2 separate regions of the Homo sapiens genome follow, and region 1 is linked to region 2. Evidence: fine-mapped expression QTL. A gene starts in region 2. The other region holds a variant in brackets. All regions are shown on one strand. Distances are from middle to middle. Region 1 overlaps LOC102723704 (a long non-coding RNA gene). Region 2 holds the start of SLC9B2 (solute carrier family 9 member B2).

What was found. PIP is the estimated chance that this variant, and not a neighbour inherited with it, causes the effect.
Region 1: its variant is the best candidate, but not a certain one, in a credible set for the expression of SLC9B2 in pancreas (GTEx, PIP 0.53).

What each region holds. Positions count from the first base shown.
Region 1 is chr4:102,788,555-102,792,960 of GRCh38, forward strand. All of the region lies in intron 4 of LOC102723704 (a long non-coding RNA gene), which reads left to right. Among named protein-coding and RNA genes, the nearest start is that of MANBA, 30 kb to the left of the region's middle. The variant ATTAATT/A (reference allele first, on the strand shown) is at 2,095.
Region 2 is chr4:103,074,525-103,078,930 of GRCh38, forward strand. SLC9B2 (solute carrier family 9 member B2) reads right to left here and starts at 2,237. Exons shown (of 12, transcript NM_178833.7): 1 at 1,660-2,237. BDH2 (3-hydroxybutyrate dehydrogenase 2) reads right to left here. Exons shown (of 10, transcript NM_020139.4): 10 at 3,068-4,406. RefSeq lists a silencer at 1,897-2,006 and an enhancer at 2,117-2,236.

The DNA of each region.
Region 1 (4,406 bases), 290 kb before region 2:
GCATTTAAATAAGTACACAAGTTTGTTATCAGAATTAAGAGTTAATATTATGTAAAGAATTGGCCGGGTGCAGTGGCTCCTGCCTGTAATCCCAGCACTTTGGGAGGCCGAGGGGGGCGGGTCACCTGAGGTCAGGAGTTTGAGACCAGCCTGGCTAACATGGTGAAACCCCATTTCTACTAAAAATACAAAAAATTAGCCAGGCGTGGTGGCAAGCACCTGTAATCCCAGCTACTTGGGAGGCTGAGGCAGGAGAATCGCTTGAACCTGGGAGGCAGAGGTTGCAGTGAGCCGAGATCATACCATTGCACTCCAGCCTGGGCAACAGCAGCGAAACTCCGTCTCAAAAAATAAATAAAATATCTGTGTGTGTGTGTGTGTGTGTGCGCGCGCACGTGCGTGTCTGAAGAATTTAGAAAAGTGCTTGACACTTAAAAGTATTACATAAATGTTGGTTATTACTATCTTTTGTCACTGATATTTTAAGGTGAAATTCACATATTAACTATTGTAAAATGCACAATTCAGTGTAATTTCATGTGTTCACAATGTTGTATAGCCATAACTTCTAGTTCCAAGACATTTTCACCACCCACAAGAGACTACATACCCATCAAGCAGTCATTCCCCATTTCCCTATCTTCCTAGTAGCTGAATCTGCTTTCTGTCTCTATAGAACTATTCTGGATATTCATATAAATGAAATTATACAATATGTGACCTTTTATGTTTTGCTCCTTTCTTTTAGCAAAATGTTTTTAAGGCCCATCCACATTATAGCATGCATCAATACTACAATCTTTCATGTGGCTGAATAATATACCATCGTACGGAAATACCACAATTTGTTTCATTGTTTCCATCTTTTGGCTATTGTGAATAGTGAGTGCTGCTATGAACATTCATTTACAAGTATTTGTTTGAATACCTGTTTTCAGTTGTTTTGGGTACGTAACCAGGAATGAAATTGCTGAGTCATACAATAATTCTATGTTCAACTTTTTGGGGAACTGCCAAACTGCTTTCCACAGAAGCTGCACCATCTTACATTCCCACCAGCATTGTACCAGGTTTCCAGTTTCACAAAATCCTCACCAGCACATTTTCTATTTTAAAATTTTACAGCTATTCTATGGGGTAAAAAGTGATACATCATTGTGGTTTGGACTTGCATTTCTCTAATAACTAGTATGTTGAACATCTTTTCATTTACTTACTGGCCATCTGTTTATCTTATTTGGGAAAATGTTTAAATCTTTTGCCTGTTTTTAAATAGGGTCATCTTCTTGTTGAGTTTTAAAAATTCTTTATTCTGAATACTAGAGCCTAATCATAGATGATTTGAAAATTTGTGTCCATTCTGTAGGTTATCCTTTCATTTTTATAATGTCTTTTGACACACGTTTATAATCTTAATGAAGTCCAATTTATCTTTTTCCTTTGGTTGTTTGTGCTTTTGGTGTCATCTCTAAGTATTGCCAAATCTAAGAACACAAAGATACACTCTCATTTTCTTCTAAGAGTTTTATGGTTTTAGTAGCTCTTACATTTGTGACTTTGATCCATTTTAATTTTTGCATAAGATGTGAGGTAGGGGTCCAAATTCATTCTTTTGCATGTAGATATCTGGTTGTCTCTACACCATATTGTTAAAGAGACTATTGTTTCCCATTGAATGGTCTTGTCATCTTTGTCAAACATCAACTGACCGTAAATGTATGACAATTTCTGGCCTCTCAATTCTATTCCATGAGTCTATGTGTTCCTGTGTATGCTATTTTGATTACTGTAGCTTTGTATTAACTTTTGAAATAGGGAAGTATGAGTTCCTTACTTTCATTCTTTTTAAAGATTGTTTAGCTCCTTGCAGTCCTTTGCAATTCCGTATGAATTTTTACACTTTATCATTTCTGCAAAACAGTCATTGGGATTTTGATAGGGGTTGCATTGAATGTGTAGATTGCTTTGAGAATCACTGTCATTTCAGCATATTAAATCTTCAAATCCATGAACACAGGATGTCTTTTCATTTATTCAGGACTTCTCTTTCAGAAGTTTGATAGTTTTCAGTGTACATGTTTTTGCATTTCCCTT[ATTAATT/A]TTTTCTTTTTTTGAAATAGAGTCTCACTCTGTCACCCAGGCTGGAGTGCAGTGGCATGATGTCGGCTGACTGCAACCTCTGCCTCCCAGGTTTAAGCAATTCTCCTGGCTCAGCCTCCCGAGTAGCTGGGACTACAGGTGCACGTCACCACACCCAGCTATTTTATTTTTTTTGTATTTTTAGTGGAGATGGGGTTTCACCAAGTTGGCCAGGCTGGTCTCAAACTGCTGACCTCGTGATCTGCACGCCTCGACCTCCGAAAGTGCTGGGATTATAGGTGTGAGCCACTGCACTGGGCCCCTATTCTTTTTGATGCTATTGTATATGGAACTTTCTTAACATCATTTATGGATTGCTTAGAATTAATAATTATTTACAGAAATACAACTGATTTCTCTGTGCCAATCTTGTATCCTGCAAATTTGCCTAATTCTATGAGCGCTAAGTGGTTTTTATGATTTAGGATTTTCCATATACAAGATGTCACTTATTTAGTCTTCCTTTACAATTTGACTAATATTTTTAAAATATTGATATTTAATGTTTTGATTCTTGCAAATTGGTTGGCAACTCATGGTGCTACATTACCTTGTACTTTTTCTTGCTGGTTTTAAAATGTGAGCTATTATGCAATTCCTACAGTGTTTGCTTCTGCCAGTAGCTGGTTGTTTTACTAATTTGGAATCACTCTAAAAATTAAATCCTCTGCTTGAATTTCCTGGGACCACCTAAGCCTGCAAATCTTCACAAAGCCCAAACTGTTATTACAAATTCTCGCAATATTCTCCTGTCACAGAGCACCAAGTTTCAAGATAGGTAGAGTCCTAGTTGTACTAGGAATGGGTTTCTCGTATTTGACACCACTTTTGGGTGCATCCTGGGCTTTGCCAGAGTCATGAAAATTAAAGGTCAGCTGGGCATGATGGTTCACGCCTGTAACCCCAGCACTTTGGGAGGCCGTGGCGAATGGTCTTGAGCCCAGGAGTTCAAGAACAGTCTGGGCAACATGGCGAGTAGCCCCAACTACTCAGGAGGCTGAGGTGGGAGGATTGCTTGAGTCCAGGAGGTCGAGGGGTGTATCACTGCACTCCAGCCTGGGTGATACAGCAAGACCCTGTCTTGTAGAAAAAATGAAAAAAGTTCACTTGGGGTAGGTACTTCAAGTGTTTTCAAAATGCAATGCAAGCTGGTTCTGGGTATGTTCTGTTTTCTTCTGGGTTCTTGGTTTCAGTTTGGTTTTGGTGAGAGTACTCCTTCCTTTCTTGATAGAACATTGACACATCGAAAAAAAAAAAAAAAGTTTTCCCCCAGCAAGTGGTTGCTTTTTCAAAGGATTTATCAGGGTAATCATCCAGGCTGACAGAATCTGAACTGCATTATTTTACTTACAATAAAGAAGGTCTGATTAACAAATTTTTAATAGTATATTAGTTTTCTTTGTTCTTTTGGAGTTAGAAATGAAGCAAGCAAAAGATTAAACATTTTCCCTAAGAAGATATACAAATGACGAGTAAGTACATGTACCTTTGACAGACTACCATTTGGCCCAGTCATTTGTGTTAAATATTTGATCACCTAAAATGTTGCAAGTAGTCATCTCGTCATTGATAAATAAGAGAAAAAAAATCTGTCCTCATAGAACTGGGGTGGCGCTGAGGGTGAGACAATTATTACCTATAAGATAGATAATACTGAATATGCCATGATGTACTCTATAGAGGTGATGCTGTGTTGGTGTATTTATAGAATAGTCAAGAAAAACCACTCTGATAAGGTATTTGAATAGAGACCTAGTTAGGGAAAAGGAAGCTGTATGGTATGTGGGGTAAGATCATCCTAGGCAAAGGTAAGAACAAGAGTAAACATCTTCACACATCTTTGCAAGTCTCAGCAGTCCCATGTGACTGAGCTGAGAGAGTTGGAATGGTGGTGAGACAAGCAAGGAATTGGGGATTAAGCTGAGGCAAAGGTAGGGAAGAAAGTTATCTACAGCCTTGTAGATTACTTTTAATACCTTGTGTTTTTACTCCGAATGAGATGGGAAACCATTAGGTTTGGAGGAAAGCCATGCCATCTGATAAGGTTTAAAGGGGTTGTGTGTGGGACAGACAGATTGCTGCAACGTGGGGAGATCACTCAGGAGGCTACTCCAATAATCCAAATAAGAAATGATATAGCTTTAGATCATAGTGCTAACAGTCAACATGATAAATGGGCAGATTCTAAAGGCTGCTGTTAAGTCTGATTGAAGGTGGAGTGTGAAAAGTCAAAGATGGTGCCTAGGTTTTAGGCCATTGCAATTTAA
Region 2 (4,406 bases):
CAGAACACTGCCTTTGTATTGAAATTTCTCAAAAATGTCCAGAAAATAACATTTTATAAAGTTAAAAATTAGTGCCAAGGTTTTCACTGCCATTCTTTTAGTCAACAGAAATTATTTGGATTGTAAGATTATGTATTTCCCCTCCTCTACCCTGAAGTTAAATTGTAATATTTGAATACTGAATGAAGAAAAGTTGGACTTATAAACGTTTGGTTGTTTTCCAAATTTCCACTCATGAAACAAAACAACAACAATAAAATATCACTACTATTGCTGCCTGGAGTTTCATTTCTGCTTTTTCTACTTGAAGAAATTCAAAATCTAACTCAAATGTCACCTTCTCAGTATTTCCTAACTCCAACATTGACAAACTGTCTCCCTCGTTTTCCTCTCTGATGATTCATTCATTCATTCAACAAACAAGAGCTATTAAGCTCTTGTTACGTCCCAGTCCTTGAGCTGAGGATTCAGAAGTGAACGGTCTTAAATAGTTCCTATATTCAGATCTTGTAATCTAGTTACAGGATGATAAAGGATGATAAATGATTCCTAAGCAATCACAATGAAATATGGTTAAGTTTCAACTTTAGACACATAACAACCCCATCCCTTAACAAGTTTCATTTCCTTTTTTTTCTTTTCTGAGATGGAGTCTTGCTCTGTCACCTAGGCTGGAGTGCAGTGGCACAATCTTGGCTCACTGCAACCTGTGCCTCCTGGGTTCAAGCGATTCTTCAGCCTCAGCCTCCGGAATAGCTGGAATTACGGGCGTGCACCACCATGCCCAGCTAATTTTTATATTTTTAGTAGAGATGGGGTTTTACCATGTTGGCTAGGCTGGTCTCGAACTCCTGACCTCAGGTGATATGCCCACCTCGGCCTCACAAAGCCTTAACAAGTTTCTCTGGTGTGATAGGCACAAGAGTAACAAAGATGACTAAGATGCAGTCTGCCCTTTAAGGGATGGTCAGAGACTGATATGTGTTTACCAAAATCGTTTACTCTTCTGCCTGGGTCCATAGTACATTTCCAGTCTCCCTTGCAGGTCAGTGTGGCATGTGACTGAAGTCTGGTCAATGGCATGTGGACATAAATAGTATGTGATTTCCAGTCCTCACCCATAAGAAACAATCCTCATGCAATCCTCTAGTAGCTTTTCTTTTTCTGTCCGTTGCCTGGAAACTAAGGACTCCAAGGTCTTAGGGGATAGCAAAGCCATAATATAAAAGGAGTTTGGGTTCCTGAATAATTGAGTAGAAGGCCAACAGCTGAACACGTGAATGGACTTGACATGAACGAGAAATAAGCCTGAACTATGTTTAGTTACTGAGATGTTTTACTTTATCTCTTACAGCAGCTACTGCTGTCTTAAGGTTATATTCTTCAGTCAATAGCATACGATGATTCTTAGCACCTCGAGGATGCTAACCCAGTCCACAAAGGCAACACCCCCTCTGGTTAATCTGAGAACTAAAATAAAAGCAAGCAAGAAAACCCACGCCAACACCTTACAACAGTAAACAGACACGCGCCCGTCACCGGGTGTACAAACAGAAAAGGCTGGGCCCCTCGCTCGCGTCTCCGGTCCAGCAGGCCTACAGGGTACCCGCCGCTGGCGCTGGGTTTATTTTTACCCTTAGTGTCTCTGGGGCCTCTCACCTGGCAGTCTCCGGCGAAGTCGACCAGGCTCCGTCTGAACGATTAGGAAAGGGGCTGTGGGGGAGGCGGCGGAGCCCGGTCTAGCCACCGCGCTCTGGGGTTCCCGATTCGCGCATCTTCCCAGGCTGAGCCGGGAGGCTGCGTTGACTGCAGATAAACGGTCTCAGGGCGCGGCACCGCGTGTAGTCGGCCCCGCCTTTCGCACGAACCCGCTGGGCGACACCGCGCAGGGAGGTCCGACCCGTCGGCGCCGGTACAGGCTCCGGAGTAAGCATGGGTTGGTCCGGGGCCCGCAGCGGCAGCCCCGTGTGCCCTCCGCCGGGTTTCAGGTCCGGCGGCGCGGGTGCAGAGCCGCGTGCGATGCCTGGTGCGCGTGGCTTCCCCCGGAAAGGTGGCGCCAGGCCGACCATGGGCCCACGTCCCGGGGCCTCGGAGCGGCACCGCGCGGTCTTTCAGCTGCTTATCCTCCCTGGGCGGGTCCGCAGGCTTCTGGGGCCAGGACCAGCGAGCTCCCGGGAAAGCTTCCCGGAAAGCTTACCCAGAGAGCGCGGACCCAGGCGCCGAGTCTTCCCGGAGATGACGAGACACCGCGAGAGGAGCACAGCGCAGGCTCCTCGGGACTCCGCGGCGCAGGCCGGGCAGCCCGTTACTTGTTTTATCGTTCCCGAAACCAACCTCTAAGTTGTCTATCAGTCCTCCACCTTTTAGCTGTACCTCTTAGAAGTGTCTTCTCAGCTGCGGTGGGAAGATAGGATTCTTTCTTAAGGTGACCAATTAAATGGCCGGATAAAAGACTTGTTCTGCCCCCCTTTATCGCTTAACACCTGCCCTTCTTGTTGTATTTTAGATTTTTAACCCTTCTATCAGCAGTGTGATTCTATTTCATTTAATTCTCATTTCATGTTTGTGTCTTCCTTTTCTCTGTATTTCCTCTTGTGTGTGTTAAGACGCGCGCACCCCTTACCTGTTTTTCACTCCTGTAAGCAAGTGCCAATCTTAATCACCGCTTTTCAAGCAAGGGAGATTATCCTCAAATTTCTCCACCAGTCAGAAACCATTCATTCTTGTCTCTCAGGTCCTCTTTTGTGATGAACCTATTGGATAGGTTCCATCCAATACCCTTCTTCAGATCATCTGAAATGATTATTTTCCTAAACGGAACTCTTCCTCTCCTAAAGCTTGTAAAAATTTCTAGTGACATTCAGCTTCCTCTTACCACAGGAATGACATATATTTTTCCTTTTAGTCATATGTACTTCATTAATATATCACCTGATTTGATTAACATGACTTTGGAGAACATTGAATTTTTTGGCTAGATTTTACTTCGTTTTTATTGCTGATAGTGTTTATAAAAATGTTTTATAGTTTATGGTCGGCTGTGAGAAAGACTAACTCAGATCATTTGTTAATGTTGGAGCCCATTTTGTAGAATTCGTTGTGCATTTATTTAAAATTTATTTGTTCATAGCTATACATATATTATACATGTATACCTGCTCACAGCATAAAGTATTTCATGACATACTTGTAAGAGTCAGTGTTCTATGAATTCACTAGAGAAGTTACAGCATTTTGATTATGATACACGAAAAGAAACCCAAGTCATTTAGCTTAACTCCTTAATTTCATAAACCAGAAAACTAAAATCCAAGATAGATTGGGTGACTTGGTCTAGATCACAAACCAAAGTTAGCCATAATTCGGTAGTGTAGTGCCCGGTCCAAAACCTCATAGATAATCTTATAATCAATGGACTCTTTCTGAATGCTAGTCAAAATGTCCTTTTGTGTGAATTTTAATGTACCGTCATCAACTGCATGATATTCTTCCCCATACACAAAGTGTTATCTTTTTGTTGTCCATTTCAGAATTTTCCATGTTAATATTAAAGTTCTAGGAAAAAAGGCTAAGAATCACTGCACATTTATTGAGTATCTCAGTGTGCATCATACCATTTGGTCATTTGAGGTTGCAACAAGTAAAAAACAAACATAAAACCCTTAAATTAAAATAAAAACAAAAAACTTTGCCCTGACAATGTTACAGAATTAACATCCATAAATTTACTTTTCTTGAAAAATTTATTTTCTTTAATTTCGTTTGTTTCCTGTTACATAATTTATATTTAAATTTACATTTATTTATCCAGAAACTATGTCCAAATTTTATGTCCTCTTTTCTGTTATCCTGGAGTTTGGTGAAGAAATCTGTACTTAATTTAGAAAAGAAATCCCTCTAACTGACAATATTGTTAGCTAACTATATATTTCTTAGGCCCATGTCAAATATCATTGCTTATTTTAATAAAGATTGTTTAGTTAGACTAAGAAAATAGTAAATAATAAGGGATGGCATCCGTTAAGTATAAACACTGGATTATTTTTCATAACATAACAGGTCAACAATATCGTTTTGAGGCTGAACTCCTTTACTCCTTTTACTGTAAGCTATTGAAGCCAAACTCCTTCCTACCTTTGTTCATTTATGATGGTGTAAAATTTTAAAATTAGGATCTACATACAGAACAATGCAGAATTATATAAAAATATTTGAATATTGAAAAATGAAGTGGAAATTATTATTATTATTTAGGTACAGGGTCTTGCTCTGTCACCCTGGAGTGCAGTGGCATGATTACAGCTCACTGCAGCCTCAAACTCTTGGGCTCAAGTAATCCTCCTGCCTTAGCCTCTGTTAACCATGCTGGTCCTGAACTCCTGGCCGCAAGTGATCCTCCTGCCTTG